3 linked regions of the Homo sapiens genome follow. The protein of the gene in region 2 purifies or fractionates together with the protein of the main gene of each other region. This does not show direct contact. Each region holds a gene or a part of one and is shown on either strand. Other genes may lie near its edges.

Region 1 (3,751 bases), on a different chromosome or scaffold from region 2:
TTCATAAAGAAAACCCAAACTTCCAGAAAACCATGGGAACAATTGATATCGCAAAAAAAATGACCTTTGATTGTATGTAAGAAACTATTGAGGATTACAATGTTCACAATAAATCTCAAATGACCAGCAGGGCTCTTCACAGACAGACAGACAAACCCACACTGGTCCGCACTGGTCCTAGAGGAGCAAGTTTCTTCCCAGTTGAGGGTGGGAGACAGGCAGATCCCAGATGCTTCAGCACTTTGAAGCAAATGACAAATGGCTGTGTAAAGTATTATGTTTTATTTAACTTTTCTCACACACATCAGATAAGCAAGATTTCACTCTGTTTATTGGTGGGCTATAAATTTCCTGTCTCCTGCCTGTCCTCTAAAGTAACTACGGAAGCTTTTTATTTTGGCCTGAAGGACTGAGGCAGAATTTGAGTGCAGAGCTTCAGGTCTTATATCTAGTTTGAGTTTTGTGTTTGGTGTCAATGGTGAGTCTGAGGCAGGATTGTACAAGAGAGACTGGGACTGAGTTGAGTTCGGGTGAGGGCATATGGATCCCAAGATGCATATGAATAGAGAGTTTAAAATATTTTTTTTAGATTTACCTCTCCTCTCAATCATTCAACAAATATTAAGCAACTTCTTTGTAGCAGATGCTGTGTTGTGTACTAGATAAGGAATGATAAGAAAAGCACAGCTTTTATTCAATTGCCAAAAATCTACAAGAGGCCATAGATTCCAAAAAACAAACAGAGGCCAATTTTTCAGGATTCAAGTGTAGCAGGAAAGAATAAGCAGGAAGTGGATTCCAAGAGAATGGGTCAGTGTGTCAAAGAGGGAAAGAGGAGAAGGGCCCACTTTGGACCTGATGTATCAGCACACCATTCTGGAAGCGTGTCACAAGCAGATCAGCGGCCATGGGATAGCAGGATTATGAATTTCTACTTGAGGCCAGGCACAGTGGCTCGTGCCTGTAATCCCAGCATTTTTGGAGGCCAAGGCAGGTGGATCACTTGAGGTCAGAAGTCTGAGACCAGCCTGACCAACGTGGCAAAACCCCGTCTCTACAAACATGAAAATTAGCCAGGTGTAGTGGTGCCTGCCTGCAGTCCCAGCTACTCTGGAGGCTGAGGCAGGAGAATCACCTGAACCCAGGAGACAGAGGTTGCAGTGAGCCAAGATTGCACCACTGCACTCCAGCCTGGATGACAGAGCGAGACTCCATCTCAAAAAAAAACAAAAAATTATATTTGAGGTCAAAAGCTGGCTCCCTGCCATCCCCACCATAATCTATCTTTCTGGGCATGAAGAAATCTGCCGGGTGTGGAGTGAGGGAGGACTTACCTAGAAACTCTGCAGTCGGGCACCATAATCAGTGAACACCGAGATCCCTGGCTCCAGTAGCATTCATCAGTCAGGGTTGCATGTTGGTGCCATCACTGGAAGGTGACCATTGCTTAGGTGAAGTGATTTCCCCTTATAAAGTTCTGTGGATCACCTGTTGGATTCACACTCAATTCTATGACACTATTCATTGCAAGCTTGAACGTTTACTCATAAGATCATTGAACTTTTTATTATTGTCATCACAAAATGGCCATGTTTAGGTGGCAAAGTAATAAATCATGCCGACATCAAAGACAACATTGTTTAATATTCACATTTGGGGGGGCTGGAATCAAAATGACCTCTTTATTAGATATACTTTGTCTTTTAAAATAAGCAAGTATCTTCTTGAAATAGATGTTACATGAACATGACCATTTTGTGTTCAGACATGGAAAACTTTATATAATTAGCATGTAGGAAGAGGTATGTAGACACATCTCATAACTGCCCTGAAAATCCTGGTCCCTATTTTAATGATTTTAACATTTAAATTATATACCTATCATACTACAATACTCAGAAAGAAAAGTCCAGATAGAGTTGAATAACCAAGATCTTTAACTTTTGATTGGAAAGGATCTCAACACAGAAGTATATGTGTTCTTTGAGAAGTATGAGAAAGCCTGATAAGAGAAGCAAAAAGCAACTTGGTGAGGGATGCAACTTCACACTACCCACTGCCTTTCAGCTCTGTCACCACCTACCTTCTTTACATACTCCACATTGTGTCTTCCCCATTTTTTATTCCTCTGTTATTTCTCTCATTCTCAACAATCCCAGATTTCGAACCACAACATGTTTCTGAAGCAGAGCTGTAAACTACTACAGTGTCATGGCCAGAGCCCTTCCCCTGCCAGCTCTATCAAAGTGGGGTGCCCAGGTTTCAGTTTCACAAGGATTATGTCTCAGGTTCTTGGTTGCAGTGCTGGTTCAGATTCCCAACAGTTTCTTGGTACACTAGAAACACCTCAAATGCTTGGTGAATAGAATGGTTACAGATTGAGCAACTGCCCTATAACTTTTTATGTTTACTTTTATGTCTAGATGTGTGCATGTGTGTGTTCAGAAGCATGAGAGAGGGGTAGAGCATGAGTGGAGAATAGAAGAGAAGTCAGGAAAATTCATCACACTTACAAGGCAAATAATGACTTGCCAAGAATTCTCCACACCTGACTGAACAAACCCCTTCACCAAAGTAGTGTTTTGGATAAAGTCATTTTTGATAGGGTGAAATAATACCAATTCCATGTAGCGAAGTTTGCTTTTGGGATAATCAGAAAACAACTGACTACTTTATAATGCTCTGAAACTATTCCCACAACCCTCTTTCTTTAAACCTAGAACAGAAAATATGACACTGCTACCTAAACCAGTGGCATTCATATGTGGGCTTCCCAATCTATCTGTCTTCTCACAAGGCTGGAAATAAGGAAGTCCTATACATTCTTAGCAGAAAGATCTCTCCTTCGGGCTCTCTTATTTCCCAACTTGAATGCACATAAGACTGTGTCATTGTCATTGTGTTTTTAACCTGGATCTAGAAGTTACTGATCTGAAATTTACTATAATACTGGGAAACTCATTTTGGTTCCTTTTCAGTACCCCTGAAAGAGAAGCCTCTCATTTTATTTCAGAATGACACAGATGAGTACTATAATTGCTTTCTACTTGCCACATTGCAGTAAGGTACCTATAGATAAAGAGTTAATCAAAAAGATTTCAGTGACCCACATGTAACTCATTTCACCATTGATTTCTGTATTTTAGGGAACACTGGGAACATGTTTAAGATCGAACCGGTCCTAGGCATCATCACCATTTGCAAAGAACCAGACATGACGACGATGGGTCAGTTTGTCCTATCCATCAAAGTCACAGATCAGGGATCCCCGCCAATGTCTGCTACTGCAATTGTGCGCATTTCCGTCACCATGTCTGACAATTCTCACCCCAAGTTCATTCACAAAGACTACCAAGCAGAAGTAAATGAAAATGTTGACATTGGAACATCAGTCATTCTAATCTCTGCCATCAGTCAATCTACCCTCATTTATGAAGTCAAAGATGGAGACATTAATGGGATCTTTACCATAAATCCATATTCTGGAGTCATCACCACTCAGAAGGCCCTGGATTATGAGCGCACATCCTCTTATCAACTCATCATTCAGGCCACCAATATGGCAGGAATGGCTTCCAATGCTACAGTCAATATTCAGATTGTTGATGAAAATGATAATGCCCCAGTTTTTCTCTTTTCTCAATACTCAGGCAGCCTAAGTGAGGCTGCCCCAATTAATAGCATTGTCAGGAGCTTGGATAACAGCCCACTGGTGATTCGAGCCACAGATGCTGACAGCAACCGGAATGCT
Region 2 (3,751 bases):
TGCAAAGATCAGGGCAAGCCCCTGACCCTCACTGTGCCTCAGCCTCCCATCTGAAGAGTGAAAGGCTTGCGCTAGATAAGCTGCATCCCTTTCCCGTCTTCCCTCTGCCGGGATAGGGCCACCACATGGTTGGGCAGTGCAGGGGAGGGAGTTTCCAAAGTCTAAGGCTAGGCCATTTCCCAGGGTCTGGTCCCTCAAGGTTTTCTCCTTCCTTTCTTCCCTCCTTCACAGAAGCCACAGATCAAAGACTGCCCCACAGCCAACCTCAGCTTCAAGAGCTTCAGTACCACCGCAGCCACTTGGCCATGGAATTGCTGTGGCTGCAACAGGCCATCAATAGCCGTAAGGAGGTAACACTAACCTGGAACTCTTTCTGAACATTTAGGGTCAAGGGTGGGGGTTAGGGAGAGACGACCTGCCATGCCCAAGCAGGCCTGCTTGGTACAATGTATGTTCTCTCCCCCAACAGTACCTACTTCTTAAACAAACACTGAGATCCCCAGAGGCGGGCCCGATCAGAGAGGAACCCCGCGTGTTCCTAGAACATGGGGAACAGGCCTGTGAGAGGGACCAGTCACAACCAAGCGCACCACTGGAGGACCAGTCCTACAGAGACAGGACCACTGGAGAGCTAGAACAGGAGGATGACTCCTGTCACAGGGTCAAATCACCCCACAGATCCCCAGGAAGTTTGGCCACTACACAAAAAAACATTGCTGGGGCTAAGTGCAGAGAACCATGCTACAGCAAGTCTGGACCACCGTCGTCTATACCATCAAACAGCCAGGCCTTGGGGGACAGGCTCACCAAAGGGCCAGACGATGGAAGACAGACCTTTGGAGGGACCTGCCTGCTGCAGATGAAAATCCTGGAGGACCAGACCCCCAGAGGTTTAAAACCTAGGAACCATTGTCCCAGGAAGTCCAGGACACAGCTGTCTGCACTCTATGAGGACTCAAATATTAAGGAGATGTCTCCCAGAAAACTAGACCACAAAGAGCCTGACTGCCGAACAGTCAGGACACAAGAGTTGGGCCTCTCAGAGGACCACATCATCTGGGATGGTACCTTGGGGGGGCCAGAGCATAGTGTCCTCGATCTCTGGAGGACTAAACCACCCAAAGGCCAGGCCCCCACTGATAGAAGCTCCAGAGATGGAACCTCCAATGAGCCTAGTCATGAAGGACAGAAAAAGCAGAGGACTATACCATGGAGATCAAAGTCACCTGAGATTCTGTCTTCTACAAAGGCAGGCTGTACAGGAGAGGAACAGTGGAGGGGCAGGCCATGGAAAACAGAACCACCTGGCTAGACCCTAGGAAGCCAGGAGAGGATCAGGTTCCAAAGGGGAATGCTATGAAAGGGCAGTGAGACAAGACCTCATCCTACCTCCCTGACCAGCTCTGGCTTCTGCTCCTGCCCCTGGCCATTGGTGACTAGTGGGGCCAAGAGAAGCTGGAGCAGAGAGCTGGCATGAGTATAGGGAAGGAGGAAGGACACATTTTCAATCCTCTGCCTGTAGCTCAATCCAAATTTGTGGATAAGGGGCCGGGTGCAGTGGCTCACACCTGTAATCCCAGCACTTTGGGAGGCCAAGGTGAGTGGATCACCTGAGGTCAGAAGTTTGAGACCAGCCTGACCAACATGGTGAAATGAAACCCCATCTCAACTAAAAATATAAAAATTAGCCAGGCGTGGTGGTGCATGCCTGTAGTCCCAGTTACTCGGGAGGCTGAGACAGGAGAATCGCTTGAACCCAGGAGATGGAGATTGCAGTAGGCCAAGATGATGCCACTGCACTCCAGCCTGGGCTACAGAGCGAGACACGGTCTCAAAAAACAAATGTGTGGCTAAGGAGTTACCTGGGGGAAGTAGAATGAGAGGTCTGTTGGGAATAAAGGTTTTTCTTAGATTCTGAGTCTGGCTGCTTTCATTTCTGCTTCTGGCCAGGACAGATTCTGGGCCCTGCCGTTCACTTCCTACTGGCATGGGGCATTGACCCCGGAGCCAGCTGGGAGCCATGGCCCAGGAAAAGATCTAGCCATCCTCCTTAGGGAACAGCTCCCAAAGCTGATCCCCAATTGAGCTCAGCCTTGTGCTTTAGAGTGGCAAGGAGGCTCTGGAGAGTAGGGTAACACCTATGTTTAAGTGTGATCTCCCCAGGGCAGATGGGATAAAACCCTGAATGCAGATAAATGCTCCTGCCACAGTCTCCCTCTGCCTTCCTGGGTGAGAGGGCAGGACTCCACCTCTGATTGGCAATGTTCCCAGCCCTTCCTTGGTTGCCTGGCAACAGGTCTGTTTCTCTGACTGAGGATACACTATGGCAGGTGGCAGTCCAGCAGCCAAGAGGGTAGTGGTGTACCGGAATGGGGACCCATTCTTCCCAGGCTCCCAGCTGGTGGTGACTCAACGCCGCTTCCCCACCATGGAGGCCTTCCTCTGCGAGGTGACATCAGCTGTGCAGGCCCCACTGGCTGTGCGTGCCCTCTACACACCTTGTCATGGCCACCCTGTCACCAACCTGGCAGACTTGAAGAACAGAGGGCAGTATGTGGCCGCTGGATTTGAACGATTCCACAAGCTCCAGTGAGTGGGCTGGGGCTGGTCAAACAGCCTAGCAAGGGAGGTAACGGCAAGAGCGTGTATTCAGTACCTACCATGTATGTACCAGCATGTTACTGGTACTTACTGAACTCTATGTAGGGGGGGTGGTTTTGCCTCCATTAGAAAGGGAAAACAGACAGAAAACCTGCCTAAAAGTACATAACAAATAGTTGAACTGAAATTCAAATAGAATTCTGTGTGTTACTAATGTTTATGCCCATCACAGCCAAGATCAGCCTGTGGGAAGACCACTCTCCCACAGGGTGAGCCCCTTTTTCCAAAAGCTCTTCTTGCTTGGACCCCCTATCACTGAACACTCTAAATCCACCCATCCATTCCTCCCCACTGTGCATAGGCATCCCAGACTCTCCCGTTAGGCTAGGGCCATCCTCTGTTGCAGGAGGAGACTGTCTCCCAGGGTGGGAGAAGAATTTGAGTACCTGAGTCTCTGACTCATGTCTGGCTTCCAGGTCCTACTCTTAGCTCTCAGCTGAGGTTGCTTACTATAATGTAAGGATCAAGAGGGAGTAAGTGGCTGGGCACGGTGGTTCACGCCTGTAATCCTAACACTTTGGGAGGCCAAGGCGGGTGGATCACCTGAGGTCAGGTGTTCGAGACCAGCCTGGCCAACATGGCGAAACTCTGTCTCTACTAAAAATACAAAAATTGGCCAGGCACGATGGCTCACACCTGTAATCCCGGCACTTTGGAAGGCCAAGGCGGGCAGATCACCTGAGGTCAGGAGCTCAAGACCAGCCTGACCAACATGGAGAAACCCCATCTCTACTAAAACTACAACATTAGCTGAGCGTAGTGGCGCATGTCTGTAATCCCAGCTGCTCGGGTGGCTGAGGCAGGAGAATCGCTTGAACCTGGAGGCAGAGGTTGCAGTGAGCCGAGATCGTGCCACTGCACTCCAGCCTGGGCAATAAGAGTGAAACTCCATCTAAAAAAAAAAAAAAAAAAAAAAATCAGCCAGGCCTGGTAGCACGTGCCTATAATCACAGCTACTCAGGAGGCTGAGGCAGAAGAATCGCTTGAACCCGTGAGGCGGAGGTTGCAGTGAGCTGAGATCGCACAACTGCACTCCAGCCTGGGGGACAGAGTGAGACTCTGTCTCAAAAAGAAAAAAAAAGAGAAAAAA
Region 3 (3,751 bases), on a different chromosome or scaffold from region 2:
ACAGAGTGAGCAGAAGGAAAGATAGGGTCCAATGAAGATAAGCATTTTAGGAGAGGGACAAGGAGCTGGGAAAATCTGGCTTTGTCACCTCTATTTTCTGCATAACATCAGAAGCAAGGGCATCTGCTGAACTTGGGTTTGGGTCAGCTCAGGGTTTGGGGAGCATAGTCAAGGGGAGTGAGAGAGGACGCTGTCTAGGGACTGCAGGGCAGTGTTCCAGGGCCGCTGATGTTGGGCATGACTGGCTGTGACCCTCTGCCTGTGTGTTTCCCGAGCAGTGACAGCAAAGCTGGAGAGAGAGAGGAGCATTGAGGTTTTGAGACATGTATAACCAGTGAAACCATCATTACAATCCAGATTGAGAAATTTGCCATGCCAGCCAGGCCTTGAACTCTCCACCGGTCGGTAACTTTGTTTCCTTAATCTTTGGGTCCTCCTAGCTGATTGAAGGGCCTCAAATCACAAAGTAAAGGGATAAAACAATTATGGTGTAGCCATACAATGGAACACTGCTTAGTAATACAAAGACACAAGCCATTGACACACAAGCAGATGAACCCAAGATAATTATGATGAAGGAAAGAAGCTGGACAAAAAACAGTACATACTGTGTGATTCCACTGATACAAAACTCTGGAAAATGCAGACTAATCTGTGTGGCAGGAAGCAGATCAGTGGTTGGGGGCAGGAGTCATTACTGAGGGCAGGAGGGAGTACTGGACGCGTTCACTTTGTGGATTGTGATGATGATTTCACTGGCTATAACGTGTCAAGACTTCAATTTGTACACTATATATGTGCAGTTATTGTATGTTAATCACATTTTAATAAAGCTGTTAAAATATTGACCTGAAAATTAACTGTATTATTGAATCATCGATAATTAGCAAATAGAACTATGGAAAATGCCCTCTTAAATTTCAATTTAGTCAACTTAGATCTATTAGAGATTTTTAAAGCAGACCTTTTATAGTTCCAAGTTAAATCTCTAAAGTCAGTTGTAACAGAATCTGACAAAATGGGCTGTTTTCTTTTACCACCTTCTCTCTTAACCCATCAAGGCTTCCTTTTCTCAACTCTGTAATGTCCTGAAGTGTTCAAGGGGTCTCCCCATAGGTATGACAATGGGATGATTGGATGATTGTTGGTGCTTCCCATTAATCTCTCTTGAGATCCTTTCCACGTCTCCGAAAGGCACCTGTTCTTATTTGCATTTTGCAGATGAGGAAACTGAGTCTCAGAGAGGTTAAGGGGGTAGCCCGAGGCCATGTACATGACTGCAGCTTGGGACTCGGCGTCCAAAAGGGTGCCTGCCCATCCTCCTGCCAACTTAGTTGACACAATTTTCCTTTCTAAAGGCTTTCTCCCAATACCGTTGCCATTCTTAATTAGGGCTGGGTGCCGTCGAAGCCTCCTTGGAGTTAAAGGGCTGCTAGGAGGAGGAGGTGGGACGGGAGGTGGCCGTTCTCAGAGTGCTTGAAGAACTAATTAAAAATCAGTCTTTTTAAATTTTTAATTAAATTAATGTCTGTAGGGCGAAGTGTCACGGCCTGGGAGGACGGTGCGGCTGGCTTCAGCCCTTGAATGCCCCGCGTCAGTAATAATTAGGGGGTGGGGGGAAACAAAGCGAGGGTGAGTTCTGCTGGGCGCCCGTGGACTCCTAGAGGTCACTGTCGCACTCTGCTACTCAAGTGGGTTTCCCCAGCCCGTCCAGAGAGGTACTGGTGTGCGGGAGAGGCCAGCAAGACAACCAGGGACAGCTACTCCGCCCAGGGCCGGCAGCCGCCCCGCCTCGACCACGCCCCCAACCCAAGCCCGGGATCGCCCCTCCCCGACCACGCCCCTCACCCCCGCCCTTCCGGGGCCGAAAGCGAAAGCGCGCTCGGTCTCTCGGTGCTCGCTCCATCGGGTCTGGCGGGGCTGGCAGCGGCGAGGACCCGGGTCTGGCGCTGTGGGCCGGGAGCCGTGGGGCGGCATGGAGGGGCTGGTTGTCGCCGCCGGCGGGGACGTCTCCCTGCACAACTTCAGCGCGAGGCTGTGGGAGCAGCTGGTCCACTTCCACGTCATGCGGCTGACGGACTCGCTGTTCCTGTGGGTGGGGGCCACGCCGCACCTGCGCAACCTCGCCGTGGCCATGTGCAGCCGCTACGTGAGTGCCTGGCGGCCGAGGGTGCGGGCGGCGGGGCGGGGGCGCGGGGGCGCCGGGCCTGCGCGAGCTGCAGCCCCCCAGGCTTCTCTTGGGTCCACAGGGCGCCCTACTCCCCCGAAGCCCACCCGTGGGATGTCTTAGGAAGCCCGCGGGCGCCAGGGCCTGCACCACCTCGGGAGCTGCGCGCGGGCCCCGGGCCCCTCTCCTTGTCCCGCCGCCCCGCAGCTGCGTCCCGCACTGGTCTCTGTAGGTCAGAATGTCTTGGGTCTGTCCTCGCCACACGCTCGCTGGGGGACGCGTCTGCCTCGTAGCTCTCCTGCCATCTGGATTTTGAGCACACTGATAATTTTTTGGGGACTCTTGCGTCTCCACTGGATGTCTCAGGCATTTCGCACTAGGCACACATCAGGCTCTCTTCTCCAAACCTGCTCCCTCCTCCGCCTGACTGGCGCTGTGATGGCAGCTCCATCTTCCTGGCTGTGCGTTCAGAGCCTCGCAGTTGTCTTTGATTCCTCTTTCTTCACACTCCACGTGCTGAGTCCCTAGGCACTGCCGCCAGTCAAAGCAGACAAAACCCAAGCCGCCCTCACCTTCACCCTGCCGCGCTGGGCCAAGCCTGGGACATTATCATTTCCCCTCCTCTCCCGCCTTTCCGGCTTTGCGTGTCGCCGCCTGGTTTCTCCTGGTTTCCTGAGGCAGCTGTAAGAAAGTGCCACAGACCGCGTGGCTTAAAACAACAGAGGTTTATTCTCAAAGATCTGTAGACAAGGTCTCTCACTGTCACCCAGGCTGGGGTACAGTGTCATTATTATAGCTCACTGTCACCTCAAACTCCTGGGCTTAAGTGATCCTCCTTCCTCAGCCTCCCGAGTAGCTAGGACTACAGACATGTGCCACCATACCTGGCTAATTGTGTTTTTTTGTAGAGATGGGGGTCTCACTATTTTGCCCAGGCTGTTCTTGAACTCCTGGCCTCAAGTGATGATCCTCCTTCCTCAGTGAGCCCGACTCTTCTCATAAGGACATCAGTAATGTTGGATTAAGGGCCCATCCTACTCCAGTATAACCTTGTCTTAAATTGTATATATATATATATTTTTTTTTTTTTTTTTTGAAGCAAAGTCTTGCTCTGTCGCCCAGGCTGGAGTGCAATGGCGTGATCTTGGCTTACTGCAACCTCCGCCTCCCAGGTTCAAGCAGTTCTGCCTCACCCTCCTGAGTAGCTGGGATTACAGGTGTGAGCCATCACGCCGGGCTAATTTTTGTAGTTTCAGTAGAGCTGAGGTTTCATTATGTTGGCCAGGCTGATCTCGAAATTCTGACCTCGTGATCCGCCTGCCTCGGCCTCCCAAAGGCAAGCAAGTCCCTTTGGAAGTAAAGAATCTTTATGCTAATCTTTATCCTAAAGTGCCGGGATTATAGGCGTTAGCCGCCGCGCCTGGTCTAAATTACATCTTATTTACATCTGCAGAGACCCTGTTTACAAACAAGGTCACATTCATAGGTACCCAGAGGTTAGGACTTCAACATATTTTTTGGGGAGACACAATTCAGGCCACAACACTGCCTTGTAACCAGGGCAACAGAATGATAGTTTTAAGA

What was found.
Region 1: the proteins of DCDC2B (region 2) and FAT3 purify together in Homo sapiens (affinity purification with mass spectrometry; 2 studies listed by BioGRID and IntAct, with this or other methods). This does not show direct contact.
Region 3: the proteins of DCDC2B (region 2) and PSMG4 purify together in Homo sapiens (affinity purification with mass spectrometry; 2 studies listed by BioGRID and IntAct, with this or other methods). This does not show direct contact.

Annotation. Positions count from the first base shown.
Region 1 is NC_000011.10:92,794,690-92,798,440, forward strand, and holds part of FAT3 (protocadherin Fat 3 isoform 1 precursor), read left to right. Parts: intron 1-3,146; coding exon 3,147-3,751.
Region 2 is NC_000001.11:32,206,771-32,210,521, forward strand, and holds the start of DCDC2B (doublecortin domain-containing protein 2B), read left to right. Parts: upstream 1-2,318; 5' UTR 2,319-2,323; coding exon 2,324-2,589; intron 2,590-3,751. Other genes in the region: IQCC (IQ domain-containing protein C), read left to right, coding at 232-350, 470-1,312.
Region 3 is NC_000006.12:3,257,048-3,260,798, forward strand, and holds the start of PSMG4 (proteasome assembly chaperone 4), read left to right. Parts: upstream 1-1,899; 5' UTR 1,900-1,975; coding exon 1,976-2,149; intron 2,150-3,751. UniProt on the Homo sapiens protein: Chaperone protein which promotes assembly of the 20S proteasome.